Linked DNA regions of Homo sapiens. The protein of the gene in region 1 interacts with the protein of each later gene in a biochemical or structural test. Each region holds a gene or a part of one and is shown in the gene's direction. Other genes may lie near its edges. The genes, in order: TJP2, SLC26A3, UQCRC2, ADGRA2, USH1C, ACOT6 and EZH1.

What was found.
Region 2: the proteins of TJP2 (region 1) and SLC26A3 interact in a test that uses a peptide from one of them, tested with the Homo sapiens proteins (one large-scale study listed by IntAct).
Region 3: the proteins of TJP2 (region 1) and UQCRC2 interact in a test that uses a peptide from one of them, tested with the Homo sapiens proteins (one large-scale study listed by IntAct).
Region 4: the proteins of TJP2 (region 1) and ADGRA2 interact in a test that uses a peptide from one of them, tested with the Homo sapiens proteins (one large-scale study listed by IntAct).
Region 5: the proteins of TJP2 (region 1) and USH1C interact in a test that uses a peptide from one of them, tested with the Homo sapiens proteins (one large-scale study listed by IntAct).
Region 6: the proteins of TJP2 (region 1) and ACOT6 interact in a test that uses a peptide from one of them, tested with the Homo sapiens proteins (one large-scale study listed by IntAct).
Region 7: the proteins of TJP2 (region 1) and EZH1 interact in a test that uses a peptide from one of them, tested with the Homo sapiens proteins (one large-scale study listed by IntAct).

Annotation. Positions count from the first base shown.
Region 1 is NC_000009.12:69,236,777-69,240,276, forward strand, and holds part of TJP2 (tight junction protein 2), read left to right. Parts: intron 1-172; coding exon 173-360; intron 361-1,101; coding exon 1,102-1,197; intron 1,198-1,933; coding exon 1,934-2,013; intron 2,014-3,160; coding exon 3,161-3,371; intron 3,372-3,500. UniProt on the Homo sapiens protein: Plays a role in tight junctions and adherens junctions. Acts as a positive regulator of RANKL-induced osteoclast differentiation, potentially via mediating downstream transcriptional activity.
Region 2 is NC_000007.14:107,772,224-107,775,723, reverse strand, and holds part of SLC26A3 (chloride anion exchanger), read left to right. Parts: intron 1-851; coding exon 852-947; intron 948-1,570; coding exon 1,571-1,804; intron 1,805-3,500. UniProt on the Homo sapiens protein: Mediates chloride-bicarbonate exchange with a chloride bicarbonate stoichiometry of 2:1 in the intestinal epithelia. Plays a role in the chloride and bicarbonate homeostasis during sperm epididymal maturation and capacitation.
Region 3 is NC_000016.10:21,973,861-21,977,360, forward strand, and holds part of UQCRC2 (cytochrome b-c1 complex subunit 2, mitochondrial precursor), read left to right. Parts: intron 1-35; coding exon 36-116; intron 117-2,306; coding exon 2,307-2,383; intron 2,384-3,500. UniProt on the Homo sapiens protein: Component of the ubiquinol-cytochrome c oxidoreductase, a multisubunit transmembrane complex that is part of the mitochondrial electron transport chain which drives oxidative phosphorylation.
Region 4 is NC_000008.11:37,841,883-37,845,396, forward strand, and holds the end of ADGRA2 (adhesion G protein-coupled receptor A2 precursor), read left to right. Parts: coding exon 1-473; 3' UTR 474-2,607; downstream 2,608-3,514. Other genes in the region: BRF2 (transcription factor IIIB 50 kDa subunit), read right to left, coding at 2,608-3,331.
Region 5 is NC_000011.10:17,493,400-17,496,408, reverse strand, and holds the end of USH1C (harmonin), read left to right. Parts: intron 1-731; coding exon 732-840; coding exon of another isoform or gene 841-1,056; exon of another isoform or gene 1,057-1,996; intron 1,997-2,032; coding exon 2,033-2,077; 3' UTR 2,078-2,509; downstream 2,510-3,009. UniProt on the Homo sapiens protein: Anchoring/scaffolding protein that is a part of the functional network formed by USH1C, USH1G, CDH23 and MYO7A that mediates mechanotransduction in cochlear hair cells. Required for normal development and maintenance of cochlear hair cell bundles.
Region 6 is NC_000014.9:73,615,517-73,617,952, forward strand, and holds part of ACOT6 (acyl-coenzyme A thioesterase 6), read left to right. Parts: intron 1-1,327; exon of another isoform or gene 1,328-1,477; coding exon 1,478-1,676; intron 1,677-2,436. UniProt on the Homo sapiens protein: Catalyzes the hydrolysis of acyl-CoAs into free fatty acids and coenzyme A (CoASH), regulating their respective intracellular levels.
Region 7 is NC_000017.11:42,742,241-42,746,293, reverse strand, and holds the start of EZH1 (histone-lysine N-methyltransferase EZH1), read left to right. Parts: upstream 1-1,253; 5' UTR 1,254-1,276; coding exon of another isoform or gene 1,277-1,283; intron 1,284-4,053.

The DNA of each region.
Region 1 (3,500 bases):
TGCTCCCATTTGGAAGTGAAGGTCCCCACATTTCCCACCCTCTGAAACTTCTTCATTGTCAAGCGGAATCTTCTCTGAGCTCAGAAGTAAAATTGACTGGATTTGATTAATGAAATGCATGTTAGCTGCGTTTTCTGGCTTTAGAGATTTACTTCCCGTGGTTTCTTCTCAGAGCTGAACAAATGGCCAGTGTTCAAAATGCCCAGAGAGACAACGCTGGGGACCGGGCAGATTTCTGGAGAATGCGTGGCCAGAGGTCTGGGGTGAAGAAGAACCTGAGGAAAAGTCGGGAAGACCTCACAGCTGTTGTGTCTGTCAGCACCAAGTTCCCAGCTTATGAGAGGGTTTTGCTGCGAGAAGGTGAGGAAGTCACATGGGGCCTGGAAATGAACTGACTGGGCTCTGAGCCTGTTCACCTTTATTTTCAGACTGTATGGTCAAGTTCTAACTTATGTATGTCAGTTATGCCAAAGGCAGTTTATAGAGTTGAAATCAAATTCTAACAAGGAGCATGATTTATAAAAAGCTGTTTCAGTTCCTAAATTGAGGCTTATTTCTGCAACTTAAAAAATGTTTTAATACCACTGTTCAAGAGTTTCGGTATATTGGCTGGGCACTGTACCTTATGCCTATAATCGTAGCACTTTGGGAGGCCAAGGTGGGAGGATCACTTGAGCTCAGAAGTTCAAGACTAGCCTGGGCAATATAGTAAGACCTCATCTCTGCAAAAAATAAAAAAAGTTTCCATATATTATCAATGGGAAAGTTTGTGTTTAAAAATGGTGAGGAGCTAGGCAGTGTAGTCCCAGCTACTCAGGAGGCTTGAGCCTAGGAGTTTGAGTTTAGTCTGGGCAACATAGTGAGATCTTGTCTCTTAAAAAAAAATCTAGGTTAGCATGTGGTTGAATGAAAAGAAAAAAATTGTTTTAAATGGTGAGGATAGTGAAGGCATATTCTTCAGAACAGAGCCAAGCTGAATTGGGGAGAAACCACAGTTTCTTTCGTTTAGTTATGTTATCAAAAGCCCATACAATACTTTTACTGCTTATCATAACAGCTAGGCAAGTGTGTATGCTTTAATGGCCTTTCTTGTCATTTCAGCTGGTTTCAAGAGACCTGTGGTCTTATTCGGCCCCATAGCTGATATAGCAATGGAAAAATTGGCTAATGAGTTACCTGACTGGTTTCAAACTGCTAGTAAGTCTGTCAGTGTTTTTTTTTCCCCCAAATTTTTATTTTGAAAAATTTCTAACAGAGGAGTTGGAAGAATCATGAACACCCACGTACCCTTCACCTGGAATCACCAGTTGCTGACATTTTGTCACGCATTTTCTCTCACCCACTGCCTGCACCATAGACACACATACACACACACATACACATACTCTTTGAAAAATTTCTGCAGAATCATTTATAACACTTTATCCCTGAATACTTGTGTGAATCTCCTAAGAACAAGGACTTTCTCCCACATAACTGCAATACCATTATCACAGCCAAGAAAGGTAACATTGATGTGGTGTGATTTTGTATATAGTCCATTTTCCACGTTTTCTTAATTGTCCTAGTTATGTGCTTCATAGCTTTTTTTTAAATTCAGAATACAACCAAGGACCATTCATGACATTTGATTTTTATGTCTTTTTGTGATTTTTATGTCTTTCCAGTCCCCTCTTTTTTCTAAATAACTTTGTTACACTGATATTTTGAAGAATCCAAGCTAGTTGTCTCCTAGAATGCTTCCTGTTGGACTGGCCTAACCGTTTCTTCATGATTAGATTTCCACTAAGCAGGTTATGTGGGTCCTTCCCACTGAATCTTGTTAGGAGACACTTAATGTCAGGTGTGCCATCATTGCTTGATGCTAGGTGGGAGTATTTGGTTGTCACTGTTTTCTAAACAATTATTTAGCTTCCTGTTTTTGCTTTTGCAGAAACGGAACCAAAAGATGCAGGATCTGAGAAATCCACTGGAGTGGTCCGGTTAAATACCGTGAGGCAAATTATTGAACAGGTGAGAAAATTCATCCACAGACCGTGTTTTCAGAAAGAATTAGATTATGGTTTGCTGCAGTCACTTTTAGGATAGTATCTGTACTTTTAATCATTAAATGTTAATAATAAAAAATTGGCCGGGCACAGTGGCTTACACCTGTAATCCCAACACTTTGAGAGGCTGAGGCGGGTGGATCACCTGAGGTCAGGAGTTCGAGACCAGCCTGGCCAACATGGTGAAACCCTGTCTCTACTAAAAATATAAAAAATTAGCCGGGCACAGTGGCAGGTACCTGTAGTCCCAGCCACTCAGGAGGCTGAGGCAGGAGAATCGCTTGAACTCAGGAGGCGGAGTTTGCAGTGAGCGGAGATTGCACCATTGCACTCCAGCCTGGGCGACGAGTGAAACTCCATCTCAAAAAAATATATATATAATGTAAATGCAAACCGTTTCACTGTGTGGAAACCAGTCACTGTTGGCAGTGAGCGGAGATTGCACCATTGCACTCCAGCCTGGGCGACAAGAGTGAAACTCCATCTCAAAAAAATATATATATAATGTAAATGCAAACCATTTCACTGTGTGGAAACCAGTCACTGTTACTGTTCTCTGGCAGTAACATACTGTTTTTTTTTCCAGAGTTCCCAGCATTATACCAAATAATGTGTTAATTCATTTTATCAGAAGTTCTAACACATTGGTAATATTGAAGTGGGCATTAGGTAGAAGGAAATGTGTTCTGCTTCTTGATTTAAATTTACAAGATAGGTGGCTCATGCCTGTAATCCCAGCACTTTGGGAGGCAGAGGCGGGCGGATCACCTGAAGTCAGGAGTTTGGGACCAGCCTGGCCAACATGGTGAAACCCTGTCTCTACTAAAAATACAAAAATTAGCTGGCCATGGTGGTGGCGGGCACCTGTAATCCCAGCTACTCAGGAGGCTGAGACAGGATAATTGCTTGAACCCGGGAGGCGGAGGTCGCAGTGAGCCAAGTTTGTGCCACTGCACTCCAGCCTGGGCAACAGAGCAAGAATCTATCCCAAATAAGTAAACAAACAAACAAACAAGATATATCTCATACAGCCTTTACTTATTAAAACAAAGTATTTGATGCTATATTACTTTATATATCCATTTCTCTAACTTTTCCCCTTTTGTAAACAGGATAAGCATGCACTACTGGATGTGACTCCGAAAGCTGTGGACCTGTTGAATTACACCCAGTGGTTCCCAATTGTGATTTTTTTCAACCCAGACTCCAGACAAGGTGTCAAAACCATGAGACAAAGGTTAAATCCAACGTCCAACAAAAGTTCTCGAAAGTTATTTGATCAAGCCAACAAGCTTAAAAAAACGTGTGCACACCTTTTTACAGGTAAGTGAAATGTAAATGTAGTCCCTTTGCTAAAAAATGAGAAATAAAGAATTGAAGAGTAGAAGAAATAATTAATTAATCTGAATGGAGAATTTGAAATTGTGTTCATGACTCCTTGAAAAATAGTTA
Region 2 (3,500 bases), on another chromosome or scaffold:
TTGAGACAAGGTCTCGCTTTGTCACCCAGGCTGGCATGATCACAGCTCACTGCAACCTCAAACTCCTGGGTTTGAGCAATCCCCCTACCTCAGCCCCCCAAGTAGATGAGACTCCAGGCATGTGCCACTACACCCCGCTAAGTGCTAAGTTTTAAATCTTTTGTAGAGACGAGGGCTTGCTTTGTTGCCCAGGCTGGCCTTGAACTCGTGGCCTCACGCAATCCTCCCACCTCGGCCTCCCAAAGTGCTAGGATTAGAGGCTTCAGCCACCACGCCTGGCCAAGGATTTTTTATTACATAATTTGATCCTCCTCTCTTACTTATCTGTAACTAAATATTACAGCAATAAGAATTCATTAGTGTTGAAAAAAACAAAGATTAGCCTCAAATATAATACTAAAATTATAAAATAAAATTGTACAATAATAAATAACATACCATTATAAATTTTAATAAGATAAAAATTACATACAAGCAGAATACTTATGTAGGTGCAACTCGTACTCAATAAATAGAAAATAAGTAAAATAAAATTCCCTAAGAGTTGTGTAGGTTCCAAACACAAACAGATTCAAATAGAGTTTATGTCCATTCATGGATAATTTATGGATGAATCCTGGACTGTGTTATACAAAAGCTTTTGACTGTTGATAACTGCATACAGGTGGAGCAGACCATGGGTCTGACCCAATGTTCTGGCTGATATTGTTTAAACCACTTTTAAATTTTGTCACAAATATTTTTATTATCTGTCCCAATCCCTCAAATCACTCCAGTTAAAGTTGTTAGAACTATGCTATATAAATAACAGAATATTCAGTACTCTTGTAACACAGCAATGGGTTTCTCAGGTTGGCTTTAGTCCACTTCGAATTCTACGCAAGCGCAACAAAGCTTTGAGGAAAATCCGAAAACTGCAGAAGCAAGGCTTGCTACAAGTGACACCAGTAAGTTCCTTGACCACATTTCTATGCATTATAGCTAAAAGCTTAGTAAAGGATGATTCAAGGTGTAGTTCCATTCCTTTAAATGAAATGCCAGATAAACAAGGGATTTCATGTGTCAATGAGTGTTATATTTTAAAATGACATCCTTCTGAGGGTCTCCCTAAAATTTTTATTCTCCTGGGAAAAGTACCAAACACAATTGTCCACAATCTTGTTGTTGTTTGAGACAGTGTCTTGCTCTGTGGCCTAGGCTGGAGCGCAGTGGTGCGATCACAGCTCATTGCAGCCTTGACCTCCCAGACTCAAGCGACCCTCCCACCTCAGCCTCCCAAGTAGCTGAAACTACAAGCACATGTGCCACCATGCCTGGCTAACTTTTTTATTTTTTGCAGAGATGGAGTCTTACCATGTTGCCCTGGCTGGTCTCAAACTCCTGGGCTCAAGTGATCCTCCCACCTCAGTTTCCTAAAGTGCTGGGATGACAGGCATGAGCCACCACACCTAGTCCAATCCCATCGTTTGGCTCAACTCAGAATCAGTGCTTCTGAAACTCACTGGCTATCTCTGACATACACAATGTTTTTCTTGGTCACAGTTTTCATACTTGTTATCCTCTCCTGCAGAAAGGATTTATATGTACTGTTGACACCATAAAAGATTCTGACGAAGAGCTGGACAACAATCAGATAGAAGTACTGGACCAGCCAATCAATACCACAGACCTGCCTTTCCACATTGACTGGAATGATGATCTTCCTCTCAACATTGAGGTCCCCAAAATCAGCCTCCACAGCCTCATTCTTGACTTTTCAGCAGTGTCCTTTCTTGATGTTTCTTCAGTGAGGGGCCTTAAATCGGTAATTTCTTTGTTCTTAATGGAAACAACCAATCAATGACTAAAGGTTAAAAAAAAAATTGTATTTGTGGGCTGGGCACAGTGGCTCATGCCTGTAATCCCAGCACTTTGGGAGGCCGAGGTGGGTGGATCACCTGAGGTCAGGACTTCGAGACCAGCCTGGCCAACATGGCGAAGCCCCGTCTCTACTAAAAATACAAAAATCAGCTGGGTGTGGTGGCGTGCACCTGTAATCCCAGCTACTCGGGAGGCTGAGGCAGGAGAATAGCTTGAACCTGGGAGGTGGCAATTGCAGTGAGCCGAAATTGCACCACTGCACTCCAGCAATACAGTGAGACTCTGTCTCAAAAACAGCAACAAAAAAAACTGTATTTGTGGAAGGATGCTCCTTTAGGTAACATGCATTTAATTAGAAGCAAATGATAATCTTAGAGTATTCCATGGAGGGAAAGGTGGTGTTCAGTGGACTCTTGAAAGGGCATTTTTCCATGAGACTGGGTACTATATTGAAGGGAATCAAATCTACAGTTCTAACGTATGCTGAATCTGCTGGTGGACAACTATGCTCACATTCCTTTCAAATTTCAATTCTGTGGTGTTCTCAAATCTTTGTGGGCATTGTGTCTAAATTATTCTGAAATCAGAGAAGATCTGGAAAGGTCCTGGGAAAAAATGTAAGAGTGGATCCTTTTGTTTTATCCTCATCCATTATAAGCTGATGAAATTTCACTTGGCTAAAACCCAAATAGATATATGAAAGAATAAATGTCACATGTGATTTCAAAACACGACTGAAACAATCAGATTGCAGTGTGTTTTCTTTCCACAGATTAATCATATTTCTAAAATAAATTAGTTTCTAACAGAAATGCAGAAACATATAAAAAGAAAATTTAAGAAATTCTACATCTTTCTCTCTTTTTCTTGGGTTTTCACAAAAAATCTGCCCAAGTGAGAGCTGACCTAAGATAAGACCTATTCAGCATGGGTGAACTGGATACAAAATTAGAAAATGGAAGAATTTTTTTTAAATGTTAACATCATGTAACTCTCAAGTCTACTTGCGTTTTCTTTTCTTTTTTGGTTTTGGTTTTTGTTTATTTTAGCTTTTGATTACTTTAGCTTTTGTTTCTGCATTTTCACTCACACACACACACACATTTATTTTTTGGTTCTAGCAGTATAACACAAAGGACAGGGGCTCTAATTCTTAGTTAAGTGCCTAGAAGAGGTTCTGAAAGTGTTTACTGATGATGGCAATGACATTAATGATCATCTAACCTGATCAAACAATATAAGCTACTTTTCTTACTTTACATGATCTTACTCATATCACTACTGGTATTTGTTCTTAGCCTAGAGACCAGAAAAATGTATAAACATTCATTGGTGCTAGATACATCCATTCATTGTGGACAAAAATAATTAGCAACTCATGGTCCATAGGTTCTTTTTTAAAACTTTTATGTAGCAAGAAAGCTCTAGTTGAGATCATCCCAAAGAAGACACTATTTTAAAATTAAATCAGAGTTGTTCTTATGAGTTTGAGACAGAACATTTTCCCATAATACTTCCTTCAAGAATGATCATTTTTAACTTCTTACTGAGGAGAAGGGTTCTTTTGTTTGGGTTTATTTCTGTCACAGAGCCTTGTTTTTAACTTTAGTATCTTCTGACACTATTATCTCTTTTCAAAA
Region 3 (3,500 bases), on another chromosome or scaffold:
AGAATATCATACAGTAAAGTCTCATTATCTTTCAGGTTTCTGCATTTAATGCCAGTTACTCAGATTCTGGACTCTTTGGGATTTATACTATCTCCCAGGCCACAGCTGCTGGAGATGTAAGTTGCAAACTCACCAAACTTCTTTCATGAACAAGTTATTTCTCCCCCCCGCCATAAACATGTTTTCGGTTAAAATATGGAATGTTTGAATGCAGTGCAATGACTTATCAGAGCTCTGTATAGTATGATGTCATTGAAGCATTATCTGCTATAGGGAAATTTACACATGTATACTAATGCTTCCAGGAAAGAGGAGAGAATTGCCTCCTTCATGTTTTGGTTCTGGTTGGACAAGTTGCATTGAGTTGGCTCTGAGACATCTAAATTGAGAACCCAGGAGAGGGGAAGACCAGGAGGTTTATTTGCAAGTCTTCAGTGTAGAGATTGTGTTGAAATCAGGGATATGTGTGAATGATTGTAGGAAAAGAAAACTAAAGCTCAATTTCTGGGAAACAACACCATTTAAGGAGCAAGTGGCTAAGAAAAATGGCCCAGGTAAACAGAAAGAAAAAGAGAAGCTGATATATTTGAAGGATAGGAAAGAGAGTATGTTTAACACCATTTTGACCCACAGTGAAATAACATTCATTACCACTGAGAAGTCTGGTAGTTTCAGCAAGCTAGGACATCATGGGTGATCTTAACAGTTTTGACTAGAGTAGTGGAAATTGGGTAAAATGTGTAGTGATTAAGGAATGAATGACAAGTAAGAAATGAGAGGTTGGTGTGGGCTAGTGGAGCTTAGACATTCAAGGAGCAAGTTGTTTTAGGAGAGTTTACACTGAGAGATTAGGTTGAAAGAGACATACTGAGCAAAAAGATCGGAGCAGATATCGGAGATAGAAAATTATAAATGGCTCAAGTCTGAGAAAGGAATACTTGGGATCCAGCACACAAGTGGACCTTTTAGCCTTACAGACAGGCTAATATTGGAAGATATTGGGAAGATGGGGAAGTACCTCCTCAGTGAGACAGGAGGCTAAGTCATGTTTTGACAGACGTGAGAGGAAAGTTTAAAGAAAGTAGTGAAGTTTGGGACAGACAAATAGTGAGGTACACAAAAAGTGGGTATTCGCTGTAGTGTAGATGTATCCTTGAAATCAGCGACCACAAATTCATAGTACAGTCAGTCAGCACTGTCATGTAATTTTTCTTCAGTTGCATTCAGAAGCCTAATAGAGAAATGGAGGAGGTAGGTATTAGGGTTAATCCCAGGTTGGAATCCTGCAAAGTGGGCAGGTGAGAAGTATGAGGAGATAGCAAGGGAGTTGGGAGCATTGGCAAGAGTGATTAAAAGGATGATTCAGGGATCTAGGCTCAATAGAGAAGTGAAGCCAGAGGGGGCCTGATAAATTGAAAGACTGGACAAGTCAAGGAACTAGAGATCTTGATAAAGTGGAAGAATAAGGATAGTGAGATTAAAGACTGAGGTCGGGGTCTTAGAATTGAGGGCTTCAGAGGTATGCAAATTTAGGCTATGATCAGGTCTGGGGTGTGGCTCTGAAAATGGGCAGCTAAAATGAAGGGGAAACAGAGGTCCTAGAATTTAGGTGATCAGAGGGAAAAATAAGTAGCAGACCCAGCCAGCACTGGGATGGAGAAAATCATGGTCAGATTTATTTATTTATTCAACAAATATTTACCAAGTACCCACATCCCCGGAACTTTATTCTTTCTTTCTTTTTTTAAATACCATACAAGGATTCAGATTCCTTCTTGACCCTGGCTTACAAAGTATGGACAAGCCTTACAAATTGGCTGTGTATGGATTACTACTCTCTTCTTAGTGAATAGTAAGAGATAGCAGTATTAATGGCATGACACTGCAAGAGTCTGGGGAAGTTTTAAAGGTGCTTATTCTTTATGGGTGATTAGAAATCCATGTGTTTGGCCGGGTGTGGTGGCTCACACCTATAATCCCAACACTTTGGGAGGTTAAGGTGGGAGGATCACTTGAGCCCACACATCTCTACAAAAAAAGCTAAAAAATTAGCCAGGCCTGGTAGCATGCACCTGTAGTCCCAGCTTCTTGGGAGGCTGGGGCAGGAGGATTGTGTATAAACAGCTGCTTTATGAACATAGGAAGAATAAGGAACCCATAGTGATGACAGCATTCCGCATGGACACTGTGCTGTTTGTCTGGAACTAACCTTCCATCTGTGTTTTTGCCTCAGTAAAGAAGTGTGTCAGTGCTGCAGGAGACTCTGGTACTGACCACAGATGACCAACTTTTCTTATCTGTCCTAGGTTATCAAGGCTGCCTATAATCAAGTAAAAACAATAGCTCAAGGAAACCTTTCCAACACAGATGTCCAAGCTGCCAAGTAAGTCTCAGTATTAACTGTGTTTTATGTTTTTGTTATTTGAAAGTTGTATTCTTTTCAGATTATAACAATATTACAATCTATGCTCATAAGGACTGAGAAGTACAGAAAAGCGTAAAAAGGGAAACATACCCATATCCTACCACCTAAAGATATAATTGTTAACATTTTGGCCAGGCACAGTGGCTCACTAATCCCAGCACTTTGGGAGGCCAAGGCAGGTGGTTCATTTGAGACCAGGAGTTTGAGACCAGCTTGGGCAACATAGCAAGACCTCGTCTCCACCAAAATTAGAGAATAATTGTTAACATTTTTCTTAGTTTATTGATCATGCATTTTTAAACATAATTGTTAATATTGTATATATAGATGCTGCTTGACTTACACTGGGGTTACGTCCTGAGAAATGCGCATATCGAAAATGCATTTAATACCCTAATAACCCAGTCATCCAGCCAAACAAACATAAGTCAAACCATCATAAGTTAAGTTAGGGACCATCTGTATACTTTTTTATCTTATTTAAATAGCATCCTTATTATAGAAGTTTGAAAATTACAAATAAAAGACAAAAATGATCTCTGATTTCCCTAGCAATGATTCTGTTTCCATTGATTCAAATTACTAAAAATTTAAACAATATTCATTGGTGTGTCAAAATACACTTGTGCATTTTCTGCAGTTATAAAGATATCTTTGGGCTTAAAATATTTTTGTGTTTCGTATTACTTTCTTGGTGTAGATTCCCAACTAAGTTAAGAGTTATAAACATAACGAAAGACTCCATGTTAGAGTGTGTGTATGTGTGTATGTTTAAATAATACATTTGACTAGGCGCAGTTGCTCATACCTGTAATCCCAGGACTTTGGGAGGCTGGGGCAGGAGGATCACTTGAGGCCAGGAGTTCAACCAGCCTGGGTAATGTGGCAAGACACTGTCTTTACAAAAAGATATTTAAAACTAGCCAGGTGTGGTAGTGTGTGCCTGTAGCCTCAGCTACTCAGGAGGCTGAAGAGGGGGGATTGCTTGAGCCCACGAGTTTGAGGCTGCAGTGAACTAAGATCACGCCATTGCACACTAGCCTGGGCAACAGAGCAAGACCCTGTCTCTTAAAAA
Region 4 (3,514 bases), on another chromosome or scaffold:
CGCACAAGAGCCGGGCCAAGGGACACCGCGCGGGGGAGGCCTGCGGCAAGAACCGGCTCAAGGCCCTGCGCGGGGGCGCGGCGGGGGCGCTGGAGCTGCTGTCCAGCGAGAGCGGCAGTCTGCACAACAGCCCCACCGACAGCTACCTGGGCAGCAGCCGCAACAGCCCGGGCGCCGGCCTGCAGCTGGAAGGCGAGCCCATGCTCACGCCGTCCGAGGGCAGCGACACCAGCGCCGCGCCGCTTTCTGAGGCGGGCCGGGCAGGCCAGCGCCGCAGCGCCAGCCGCGACAGTCTCAAGGGCGGCGGCGCGCTGGAGAAGGAGAGCCATCGCCGCTCGTACCCGCTCAACGCCGCCAGCCTAAACGGCGCCCCCAAGGGGGGCAAGTACGACGACGTCACCCTGATGGGCGCGGAGGTAGCCAGCGGCGGCTGCATGAAGACCGGACTCTGGAAGAGCGAAACTACCGTCTAAGGTGGGGCGGGCGACGCGGTAGACGGGCTGGCCACGCGGCTCGTTCCCCCGCTCCTCGGGGCCCTCCAAGGTGTCTCCGTAGTCAGCAGGTTGGAGGCAGAGGAGCCGATGGCTGGAGGAAGCCCACAGGCGGATGTTCCCCACTTGCCTAGAGGGCATCCCTCTGGGGTAGCGACAGACAATCCCAGAAACACGCATAATACATTTCCGTCCAGCCCGGGGCAGTCTGACTGTCGGTGCCCTCCCAGGAACGGGGAAGGCCTCCGTCTGTGTGAAAGGGCACAGCACATCCCAGGTGCACCCTCCCCAAGTACTCCCACCCCGCCTACTGTCCATGCGGCCTCACTGGGGGCCATCAGCCTCACCAGCAAAGCAGAGATGAGAGCGTGGGAACTGTGTTCTTTCCTCCCTGCCCTCTACTGATTTCAGCCCAGCCCCTGCCTAGATCCTAGGTCCCTTTTCCTCCCGAGTTTGGCTGGCACGAGAGCTAGCCCAGCACATGAAGCAGGTGATGTTAAGTCACAAGGTGCTGCTTTTCAGATCCACTATGCAAGAGGGGAGGGTGGGGCCACGTGAAAGGCAGCTCTAGACATCAACCAGTCCTGGGGGAGGGGAGTGGGAACCGGGCACAACTAGGAACAATGCCACCATTCCCACAGGAGTGGTACTTAAACCAGACAGCAGGGTTCAGAGGTGGCACACCGGGACAAAGCTGAGGCCCTGCACCTCAACAGCTGACTGCCAGGTGCCTGTGGGTGAACTGAGGGGAGTAGAGGGAGAGGGCAGGTGGAACTGGGGCAGAATCTAGTCATGCCCTAAAGCTAGTCCTGTAAACAATGGTGCCCCAGAAAGCTGCAGGTGGTGTTTGGAGAAGCAGTTACTTTTCAGTTACAAGACCCATCTCCCTAGTCTCAGCCTTACAACACCACGGGACTAAGGAAGAGCACTTCCTTGCCTCCGTAAGGCCAGAGGAAGAACCATCCCAATCATTTGATCTCCAGCTCCACAGTAGAGAGAAACCTACAAAATGTCAAACCAGCTTCCCGACTCCCAGGAGCTCAAGCCAAGCCCAGAGGCAGTGGCTGGGGTCCCTGCAGGTCATGAGGGGCCTATGCCTTTACTCCTTTTAAACACCAGCACCCGTCTTTTCCCCAACCTAAAACCAACCACCAGCATTTCACTACAGGACCAAATGGAAACCGAGGGAACCCTGGGTCTTGGGAAGAACAACAGGAAACCAAGGTCTGACCTAGGGTTCCCTCCCAGTCTTCACATCACTCTGGCCTCATCACCAAGGTGACAGAGGACACAGGGGAGGGGGAAAACCCACACACACTCCTTGGAATGGGTCCTGTTATTTATGCTTGCTGCACAGACATATTAGAAGAAAAAAAAAAGCTTTGTATTATTCTTCCACATATGCTGGCTGCTGTTTACACACCCTGCCAATGCCTTAGCACTGGAGAGCTTTTTGCAATATGCTGGGGAAAGGGGAGGGAGGGAATGAAAGTGCCAAAGAAAACATGTTTTTAAGAACTCGGGTTTTATACAATAGAATGTTTTCTAGCAGATGCCTCTTGTTTTAATATATTAAAATTTTGCAAAGCCCTTTGAGCTACTGCCTTAGTCTACCCACTGTCCTTTTGTTATGAGGTAGAGGATCTCATGACACCATACACACAAACCCATCATTGCCTGTGAATGCACGTAGGGCCAGAATTCCCCAGTTCCCGCTCCTCTGAGGGTTGATACTGCTGGGAATGCCAACCACTCCACAAGCAGAGGGAAGCCCCCTCAGGCCTGCAGGAGGAGCCGCAGCAGTGTGTCCAATTCAAACCAGCAGCAAAGAGCCTGACATTTTCCCATCCATCTATGAGGAAAGCCATCTCACAGAACATGGACATAGGCAACTTGCTCTCCCACACCAAGGGATGGGAATCTCTCCTACCTATAGTCATCCCTGCACTCCTGACTTTACTCCAGGACCCAGGGTCCAACTAATGGCAGAGCCCCTCTTGGTTCCTTCAAACAAGAAAAGCAATACCTACGGACTGGTGTACACTTCCATCCTTGGTTATAACAGGAATGTTATCAAGCTGTCAGAACAGGATGAAGTGCTCCCAGTGGATATCCATCAGGGAGGGTTAGGGACACTCGTGGCAGCCTGTCTAGCAGCCTGGGCTCTCTGAAAGTCCCTAACTTCCTGAGGGGTACGCAAATACTGTTCTATTTCACTATCAGAAATGTTCTCATCTCCAGTGACAGTGGAGACAGGGGGTACAGGGCAGATCCGCTTCGGGGACTTCAACATGCAGGGTGGCAAGAGAAGGGCAGGACTGGCCGGCCGCTTCCCCTGGGGTAAACCTAAGGAATTATTTCCCACCTCCCCTTCTCCTTGCCCCTGTCCCCACCCCGGTGGCTCCTTCTCTCGGGTCTCCACTTCTGCTGTCCCATCCCGAAAGGCAGAGCGGACCAGTGACTGGCGGTGCTGGAGAAGGTCACCGATGTGCTTCACCACAGACCGTTTGTCAAGTCTCAGAACTCGTAACCAGGCCAGCTGCTCAGCCATCCGCAGCAGCACAGCCAGCAGCTCCTGCAGGCGGGAGGACGCCGGGTAGGGCAGGTCCACATTTGCCAATTTACAAAATCGGGCAAGGGAACATGAAAGCCGATCTGCAGGCTGCAGCGACTGCCAAGCCAGGAAAGTCGCAGCAGTGATGACGGGCAAGGGATGCCTCCCGGTCACCAGCCACGTCTCATTTGCCAGCTCCACCAACTGCATTGTTCGAGACAGCATCTTCTCTTTGTCTTCCACGTATTTGGCTGGCACAGAAGGTGAAGCTTGGAACAGTTTGAAGCTGAAATAACCAAAATGAGGGTTGGATCTTAATGATATAGGGGCTGCTCTCCCACAGTGAGGAAAGACAGCCCACTCAAGATGGGGAAGCTATTCTGCCCTCAGGAATACTCAAGCTCACTGGGCAGCAAGTTAATAAAGGTAGTGAGAGAAAACAGGGCGTCTTCCGCTTGTTAGGGGAAGG
Region 5 (3,009 bases), on another chromosome or scaffold:
GTCTGTGTCCATCCTTCACTCTCTGGAAGGTCTTCCTGATGTCTAACTGCATTCACTCATACTGTGCCTCTAGGCAGCCGGGACCACAGGCTTTTGTCCCCACGCTGTGGGATCTCCAGGGAGCTTTGGCCTAGACTGTCTCTCTCTGTGATTCCCTGTGTGTCTGTCTCTTGTGTCCTGTGGGTCTCTCTGTCTTCTCTCCTCCTCCCTCTCTGTCTTTCTTTCACCCTTTCCTTCCTTCCTGTCAACATCTTATCTGCCCCCCTCCTTCCCCTTCATCCCGGTCCCCTTTCTCTCTCACTGTCTCCTATTCTTTCTTCCTGTTTCTCTTCATCCCTGTCTCTGAGTCCCTGTTCCTCTGTCCTTGTCATTCTGCATCCATTCTTACCTCTTTGTCTGCCTTTCTCTGTTTCTCTGCCTCTGTGTGGTGTCTCACCTCCATCCTCACCTCATCCCATCACCTCCCCAGCCCTCACCCACCCACCACTCACCCACTCACTGACCATGCCCTGCCTCCCTGTCGTGGCTGGGCCTGCTTGCTCCCCGTGCCCAGCAGAATCTGAGCTCTACACATGTCTTGGAGAAACCAGGGTCTCGCAGCTCCTAATTCTGGAACCCAGGGGCTAGGCAGAACCCGAGGCAGGAGCCCAGTGAAAGGAGAAGCCCCATGGAGCTCTGCCTGGGAGTAACCAAGCCTGTTTTGTGTTTCTTGCTCTGCTCTGTATATATAGAGCTTCTCTTCCCTCCTCCGTAGCTGAAAGCCCCCAACCGGTCCGAAAGCTCCTTGAAGACCGTGCTGCCGTGCACAGACACGGGTTCCTCCTGCAGCTGGAGCCCACGGTGAATAGGCAGGCGGGCCACAGGGCCCTGTGTGTCCCTGCTGCTTGCAGTGGCCATCTGCTGCCCACGCTGTCAGCAGGTTCTTTGGACTGGCGTCTGGAGGGTACACAAGGCGCCATCCCTGAAGTGCTGCCTGGGGCCTGCTGTTGGCCACAGTGGAATTCCTCAGACTCAAAGCCCTCCCCTCAGGGAAGTGGTGCAAAGCCCAGTCTGTAGTACTTGCTTGGGACCCAGGTGTCCTGACTCATCACGGCCCTGGGACCTGCTTTGGGTCCCAAGCAGCACCCAAATGAGCAGGATGAAGCCCTGGGCAACATTCTCTGAGGGACACAGACAATGCCTCGAACCAGGCATGTGGGGCTGAAGGAGCCCACAGGAAGCCTGGCTGGAATTGCCCCCAAGAGATGTCCTCAACAGAATGTGAAAATTCCCCTTCCTGTGAATGCCAACCTCCTGGGAGCTCTTGCTCCACCATGGCCCCCACACTTGGCCAGAACCAGGGCTATTAAGAGGTTTTGAAGGCTGGTCCAAAGAACCAGGGTTGGTGGATTAGAGTTGCTCATGTCCTGTTGTGCCCTGTCATGGCCTGAGCCGTGCTTAGACCAAACGGTCTTCTCTGCCTTCTCCCTTCCTTGGCTCTGGGCTCTATCTGTGGGATATACCGTGGAACCCAGCTGTAGGATGTGTTTCTCACCCTGTGATAGGGATGTGCCCGTGGACAGAGCTGGCAGGTGGCTGTGAAACTGGTGTTTGGTGTGGCCTGAAGCCACAGATGGCAGCATCTGGGGCAGACCCAAGCCTGGACTTGACTTTTCTGTTACAACTTTCCCAAAACATTAGGGCCTCATGCTCCCAAGACACTTGGCCGGGTAGACCATGGCTTCTGGGGTGGCCTGCATGGCCCTATGTTTTCTGTTACTTGCCTTTTGCAAAGGACTCTTGCCCCTGTTCCTCCCAGTCTCCTCCTTCCCCCATCCCAGGTGTCCCTCCCGCTTTCTCCCTGGCCTCCTGTGTGCTGTGGCTGTGGCTGGTGTGTAGCCACTTGGGGCCTGCACCCAGAGGGGTCTCCAAAGGGTGGCAGGGCCTTGTGCTGCCAGAGTGGGTACTCCCCCTTGTGGGGCCTTGCTCTGGCTGGGCTGAGTGTGCACCCACAAAGCCTGTATCCACCTGGGCTGTTTCCACTTCCCTGCAGGACCTTCTTCTGAAGTCCAAAAGGGGAAACCAAATTCACCGTTAGGAAACAGTGAGCTCCGGCCCCACCTCGTGAACACAAAGCCTCGGATCAGCCTTGAGAGAGGCCACACTACACACACCAGATGGCATCCTTGGGACCTGAATCTATCACCCAGGAATCTCAAACTCCCTTTGGCCCTGAACCAGGGCCAGATAAGGAACAGCTCGGGCCACTCTTCTGAAGGCCAACGTGGAGGAAAGGGAGCAGCCAGCCATTTGGGAGAAGATCTCAAGGATCCAGACTCTCATTCCTTTCCTCTGGCCCAGTGAATTTGGTCTCTCCCAGCTCTGGGGGACTCCTTCCTTGAACCCTAATAAGACCCCACTGGAGTCTCTCTCTCTCCATCCCTCTCCTCTGCCCTCTGCTCTAATTGCTGCCAGGATTGTCACTCCAAACCTTACTCTGAGCTCATTAATAAAATAGATTTATTTTCCAGCTTATAGGAGTGAGTGTGGATTTGGGCAGCAGATTCAAGGCTGCAAATCAAAAAACCATAAGGTTTGTGGCCCCTATTCAAGGGTGATAGACAGATCCCAGTGCTGTGATCTGGGTCTGACATGAAGGGTGTGATCAAATGGCCAGGGCTGGCTTGGAGCAGAGGTTGAGAAAGCAGGAGATGGGCTGGGCTGGGCTTCAATGTCTTCTCAGCAGAGATGGTAGGAGATGAAGTCTGTGTGGCAGGGATTTTGCTCAATTCCAGAAAGCAGAGCTGAAGGCAGGAGCCCCGAAGGGTCACCTCATGATATGGGGTGCCCAGCTTCTTTCAAGAACGACACAGCCACCAATGCTTCTCCTGAGGTCACCACGACAGCATGTGAGGGAGGAAGATGGCAGGGTCCACTCCCTCCGTGGAAGCACATCCCACAGAAGCTCATGGGAAATGCAAGGGCTTGAGGCAGGAAGGCATAACTCCGGGGGCCCAGCAGGGGGAATGT
Region 6 (2,436 bases), on another chromosome or scaffold:
GGTCAGGAGTTTGAGACCAGCCTCACCAACATGGTGAAACCCCATCTCTACTAAAAATACAAAATTAGCCAGGTGTGGTGGCACATGCCTGTAATACCAACTACTCGGGAGGCTGAGGCAGGAGAATCGCTTGAACCCGGGGGGAGACGGAGGTTGCAGTGAGCCGAGATCGCACCATTGCACTGCAGCCTGGGCAACAAGAGTGAAACCTTGTCTCAACAAACAAACAAACAAACAAACAAACAAACAAACAGGCTGAGTGCAGTGGCTCGCACTTAAAATCCCAGCACTTGAAGAGGCCGAGGTGGGAGCATTGCAGTGGGAGGATTGCTTGAGGCCAGGAGTTTGAGACTAGCCCAGGCAGCATAGTGAGACCCTATTTCTATAAAAAGTTAAAAATTAGCCAAGCATAGGGGCCTAGCTACTTGGGAGGGTGGCTTCTTGAGGCTGGAGGGTCACTTGAGCCCAAGGATTCAAGGTTACAGTGATCTACAGGCTACAGTGCAGTGGTGTGATCACAGGTCACCACAAACTGGAACTCTTGGGCTCAGATGATCCTCCCGCCTCTTCCTCCTGAGTAGCTAAGACTATAGGCAAGTGCCATCATGCCCAGCTAGTTTTTTAAACTTTTTTGTAGAGATGGGTCTTGTTATGTTGCCCAGGCTGGTCGTGAATTCCTGGCCTCAAGTGGTCCTCTTATCTTGACCTCCCAAAGCACTGGGATTATAGGCATGAACCACCACACCTGGCCTCATTATGTTATTTCTAACTTGGTTTATTTTTGTTTGTGAAAATAATATTATTATTATTATTATTTTTGAGATAGAGTCTCACTCTGTCACCCAGGCTGGAGTGCAGTGGTGTGACAATAATTTATATCATTAAAAAGTTTTAGGCCGGTTGCGGTGGCTCACACCTGTAATCGCAGCACTTTGGGAGGCCAAGGTGGGCAGATCACCTGAGGTCAGGAGTTCAAGACCAGCCTGGCCAACATGGCAAAACCCAGTCTCTACTAAAAATACAAAAAAAATTAGCCGGGTGTCTGTTGCATGTCTGTAATTCCAGATACTTGGGGGGCTGAGGCAGGAGAATTGCTTGAACCCAGGGGGCAGAGGTTGCAGTGAGCTGAGATTGCACCACTGCACTTCAGCCTGGGCGACAGAGTGAGACTGTCAAAAAAAAATTTTTTTTTTAATTTCAATACCTTTTGGTGTACAGGTGGTTTGGGGTTACACGGATGAACTGTACAGTGATGAACGCTGAGATTTTAGTGCACCTGTCGCCTGAGTAGTATACATTGTACCCAATATGTAGTTTTTTATCCCTCTATATTATCATTATTGTTTGAGAAAATAAGACATTTTGTTCTTTCTCTGCCAATCTCTCTACCCCCAATCTCCTTGGCTTCAAAAACTTGTTTGCTTACTGTCTTTTGAGAAACTAAAGCTCCCTGTGATTTGTGATGTTCTCCAGGCAGGGGGCCCTTTCCTGGGATCATTGATCTGTTTGGGAGCAGCAGGGGCCTTTGTGAATACAGGGCCAGCCTCCTGGCCGGACATGGTTTTGCTGTGCTTGCCCTGGCTTATTTCAGATTTGAAGACCTCCCCGAAGATCTGAATGATGTACATCTGGAGTACTTTGAAGAAGCCGTGGACTTTATGCTGCAGCATCCAAAGGTGCGTTCTGGTGATCACCTGAGTGCAGAAGAGAGGGGATAGAGCTGATGCAGGGCTGAATCCAAAAGCCCTGCCAGAACACTGAGAACTAGAAACATGCCAGGAGATACCAAGTCTCCTTCAAAGGTTACTAGGGTGGAAGCTGGGCATGGTGATGTGCACCTGTAGTCCCAGCTACCTGGGAGGCTGAGGCCGGGGGATTGCTTGACCCCAGGAGTTCAAGACCAGCCTGGGCAACATTTAGTGAGACCCCTGTCTCAAAAAAAGTTTTTGTACTAGGATTATTATTTCCATTTTCTCCCATCTCTCTCTAATCCCTGAAGACTTGACTATTTAGTTGTCTTTGTAATTGTGGACCAAAATTCAAAGAGCACAGGACTAAAAAAAGTTCCAGCTCTGCATCTACCACAGAGTGGCCTTATGATTCTGAATAAGGCAGTTACTCTCTCTGGAGTTCAATTTTCCTCCTTAATAAGATTAATGTAAATGTATATAGAGAAAATGACTATAAAGAGATATTTTTTGAGACAACTGGAGACATTTGAATGAGAATGGTGTATTTGATTATATGAAGTAATCATTAATTTTGTTGGGTATGATAATGGTATTATGGTTTTGTAAAGAAAGTCCTTATCTGATAACAGAAATAATTAATTAATTAAAACATTTTGGCCAGGTGCGGTGGCTCACGTCTGTAATCCCAGTACTTTGGGAGGCCAAGGCGGGCAGATCACCTGAGGTCAGGAGTTTGAGACCAGCC
Region 7 (4,053 bases), on another chromosome or scaffold:
AGAATCGCTTGAACCCAGGAGGCAGAGATTGCAGTGAGCCGAGATTGCACCATTGCACTCCAGCCTAGGCAACAAGAGTGAAACTGTCTCAAAACAAACAAACAAACAACACGCACAAAAAATCAGCTTATGCGTGTTCGTCAAGAATACCACAGAAGTGATTTTGTGCGCTTCTCATTGCATCATGTTCAGAGGGACCTGGTAAGAATACCTCTCAGCTGGGGGCAATGGCTCATGCCTGTAATCCCAACACTTTGGGAAATCAAGGTGGGAGGATGGCTTGAACCCTGGAGTTCAAGACCAGCCTAGGCAACACAGCAAGACCCTGTCTCCTTAAAAAGAAGAGGGAGGCCGGGCGTGGTGGCTCATGCCGGTAATCTCAGCACTTTGGGAGGCCGAGGTAGGCAGATCACTTGAGGTCAGGAGTTTGACAGCAGCCTGGCCAATACGGTGAAACCCCATCTCTACTAAAAATACAAAAATTAGCCGGGCGTGGTGGCACGAACCTGTATTCCTGGCTACTTGGGAGGCTGAGGCGGGAGAATTGCTTGAGCCCGGGAGGGAGAGGTTGCAGTGAGCCGAGATCGCGCCACGGCACTCCAGCCTGTGTAAGTAACAAAGCGAGACTCCGTCCAGCCTCGCCCCCCGGCAAAAAAAGAAGAAGAAAACAATACCTCTTATCACTAGTGATGCTAACTTTGATCACTTAGTTAAGGTGGTGTCTGACAGATTCTTATCTGTAAAGTTGCTATTTTTTTCCCTTTGTAACTAGCAGGTGTCTTGTGGGGATTTATTTCGATACAAGGCTATAATTTTGATTCTAAGTGACTAGAAAACTATGAACAGAAATAGGGAGATCAGACATAAATAAAGGGCTTAGAACCCATAGACCGGTGTCTGGAGAACTGGTAGGGGTGAAGCATCGGTATGAAGGTGATCTGGGTTGGCTTCAAACGCTGAAGTGAGATGTGGCTTGTCACCAGCGCGTGGGGATGGCAAATCCGCTGAATAGGGTCTTCAGGAAGATATTAGTGGCTCTGCGAAGGTTTCCCCAGAGCCCTTCCCCTCCCCTGCCAGCGCCGCTTTGGAAGCCGTCTGGGAGGCTGCACCCGCCAGGACTCCTGAGTGCGGGGTTTTGGCGGCAAATGACAGTAGTGCGTCCGCGCGGCACGGGTAAGTCAATGCGCACGCGCCGACAGGAGGCGCGGGGCGGGGCACGGCGCAGGGGTGGGGCCGCGGCGCGCATGCGTCCTAGCAGCGGGACCCGCGGCTCGGGATGGAGGGTGAGTGAGTAAACAAGCCTGGGCCGGGCGGTGGGGCCGGGCCTCCTCCCCTCGCCGCCCTGGGCCTGAGGGAGGGAGAGGCGGAGGGATCAGGAAATTGGAAGGAATCCGAGGGACACACTGCCTGCCTGGCCGGGGGTAGCAGGCGCCCCTCCTCATTCCGAGGGTGGGGGAATGGGGGCGACGGGGCGAGAGAGACCCAGGCGAGGACAGCGTCTGGGGCTGCGAGGGCTGTGTGCCCGGGAGGAGGAGCGGCGGGGGCGGGCTCGGGGACGGGGAATCCCGTTGGATGGCGGTGTGGGCCGGTGGGCGGGAGCCCCAGCGCCCAAAGGGCGCGGGAGGGCGGTGGCACCTGCGGGGGCCTTTAGCGAGGTGGACTCTGGGGACCTGGAGCTGTGCTTGGGGAGGGCTAGAGACCGGGGCTGATCTTGCGATGGCTTTCGGGGATGTTGAGGAGGGGTAGCAGTAAAAACAAGGCCGGGACTAGGGTGAGGTGAGTAAGGCTCCCAAGGCACAAAGTGTAAAGGAGCACTGACTCAGGGTCGCGCAAGTGCAGTGAGCGCCTCCTCACGTGCGTCCTGGGTGCCTCGGTCGCCTCACCCCAGGCCTGGCCCTGAGCAAGAATCTCCTTCACTCCAGACTTTTGGTCTCACGCCAATGATCGCTCACCCCCACCATTCAACCGAGGATCAAATGATATAAATAAAAGTGCCTTGAAGCACAGACAAGGTGTTGTATTTGGGACATGCCTGTTAGGAAATGTGGGACAAACTTTTATTTCAATAAAAAGTGACTACTGAGGAATTGTTTCTTGAGCAGGGAAGGGAAGGGATACCTGAAGGATGTTAGTGCCCCCCGTGGAATGTGAAGGAATATGGAGGGTGAAATACAGGGTTGTATGTGATGTAGCCCAGGCCGATAGGAACCTGACGCTTGGCAGGGGAGGATGAAAGCAAAGGAGCTCAGGTACACTAACAATTAGGTGGGTGCAAGGATGGCAATGAAAACGCGAGTCTCCTCCACGTTTGCTGCCATACTGCCGCTGAATAAAAAAATTCCCACACCCCATGTTTTTTAAATTTAGGAAACTGATATTGAAGGAGGTTTCCAGCCTGAGAAGGTGCTAACCCTATTAGAGGTTTCTGTGAAAGCTTGTCTATTTTAAGTCTTGGAATCCCCAGATATGCCACTGATAAAAGAGATTACTTACATAGGAGAGAGTGTGTGTTAGGAGATAAGTACTTTAGACTGGGCTCGGTGGCTCATATCTGAAATCCCAGCATTCGGGAGGCCCAGGCAGGAGAATAGCTTGAGCCCAGGAGTTTGGGACCAGCTCAGGCAACAATAGCGAGACCTCATCTCTACAAAAAAAAAATAGCCAGATGTGGTGGCCTTCTCCTATAGTCCCAGCTGCTTGGGAGGCTGAAGCAGGAGTATTGCTTGAGACTGGGAGGTCAAGGTTGCAATGAGCTCTGATCCTGCCACTGCACTCCAGTCTGGGTGACAGCACCTGAGACCCTGTCTCAAGAAAAAAAAAAAAAGCCTGGCACGGTGGCTCATGCCTGTAATCCCAACACTTTGGGAGGCTGAGGTGGACCGTTCACTCGAGCCCAGGAGTTTGAGACCAGCCTGGGCAACATGGGACAACTCCATCTCTACTAAAAATACAAAAATTAATCAGGTGTGGTGGCACACGCCTGTAGTCCCAGCTACTCGGGAGGGCTGAGGCATTAGAATCGCTTGAACCGGGAGGTGGAGGTTGCAGTGAGCCGAGATTGCACCACTGCACATCAACCTGGGCAACAGAGTGAGATTCTGTCAAAAAAAAAAAAAAAAAAAGGAGGCCTGGCACAGTGGCTCAGGCCTGTAATCCCAGCACTTTGGGAGGCCAAGGCAGGCGGATCACTTGAGGTCAAGAGTCCGAGAGCTGCCTGGGCAACATGGCGAAACTCCTTCTCTACAAAAATACAAGAATTAGCTGGGCGTGGTGGTGGGTGCCTGTAATCCCAGCTATTCAGGGGGTTGAGGCACGAGAATCGCTTGAACCTGGGAGGTGGAAGTTGCAGTGAGCCGACATGCACCACTGCATTGCAGCATGGGTGACAGAGCAAGACTCCATCTCAAAAAAGAAAAAAAAAAGGGAGAGAGAAGTACTTAAAAACGCACATACATAATAGGAGAAAGGACTATCTATAAAACTGTAATAATGCTATCATTGTCAAGGTTTATGCTTATTGTTGTGTGTCACAAACATAATGAATCAACTCCAAAGGCAGGGATATATGTTTTATTCATTGATGTACCCCAAACACCTAAAATGGTAACACATAGTAGATACTACTATTAAGTATAATAGTAGGTGCTCAACATATATTTGTGGAATAAATAGTGGGGAAATTTCTGGCACTGGGAGTCAGGTGATCCGGATGCTAGTATTGTCAGTAACTGGCAGAGTACTTGTATGCTAATCGTGGAACTTGATGCTAAGGCCCAGCTTAAAATTCCTTAAAGTGTAAATGACTTCTTCATTATGATGGTTACATTAGTGCCCTTTGAAACAGCACTAGAGGCTGGGCTGATGGCTTACACCTATAAGCCCAGCACTTTGGGAGGCTGAGGCTGTTGGATCACCTGAGGTCGGGGAGTTCAAAACCAGCCTGGCCAATATGGTGAAACCCCATCTCTACTAAAAATACAAAAAATTAGCCAGACGTGGTGGCGGACACCTATAATTCTAGCTCTTGGGAGACAGAGGTGGGAGAATCGCTTG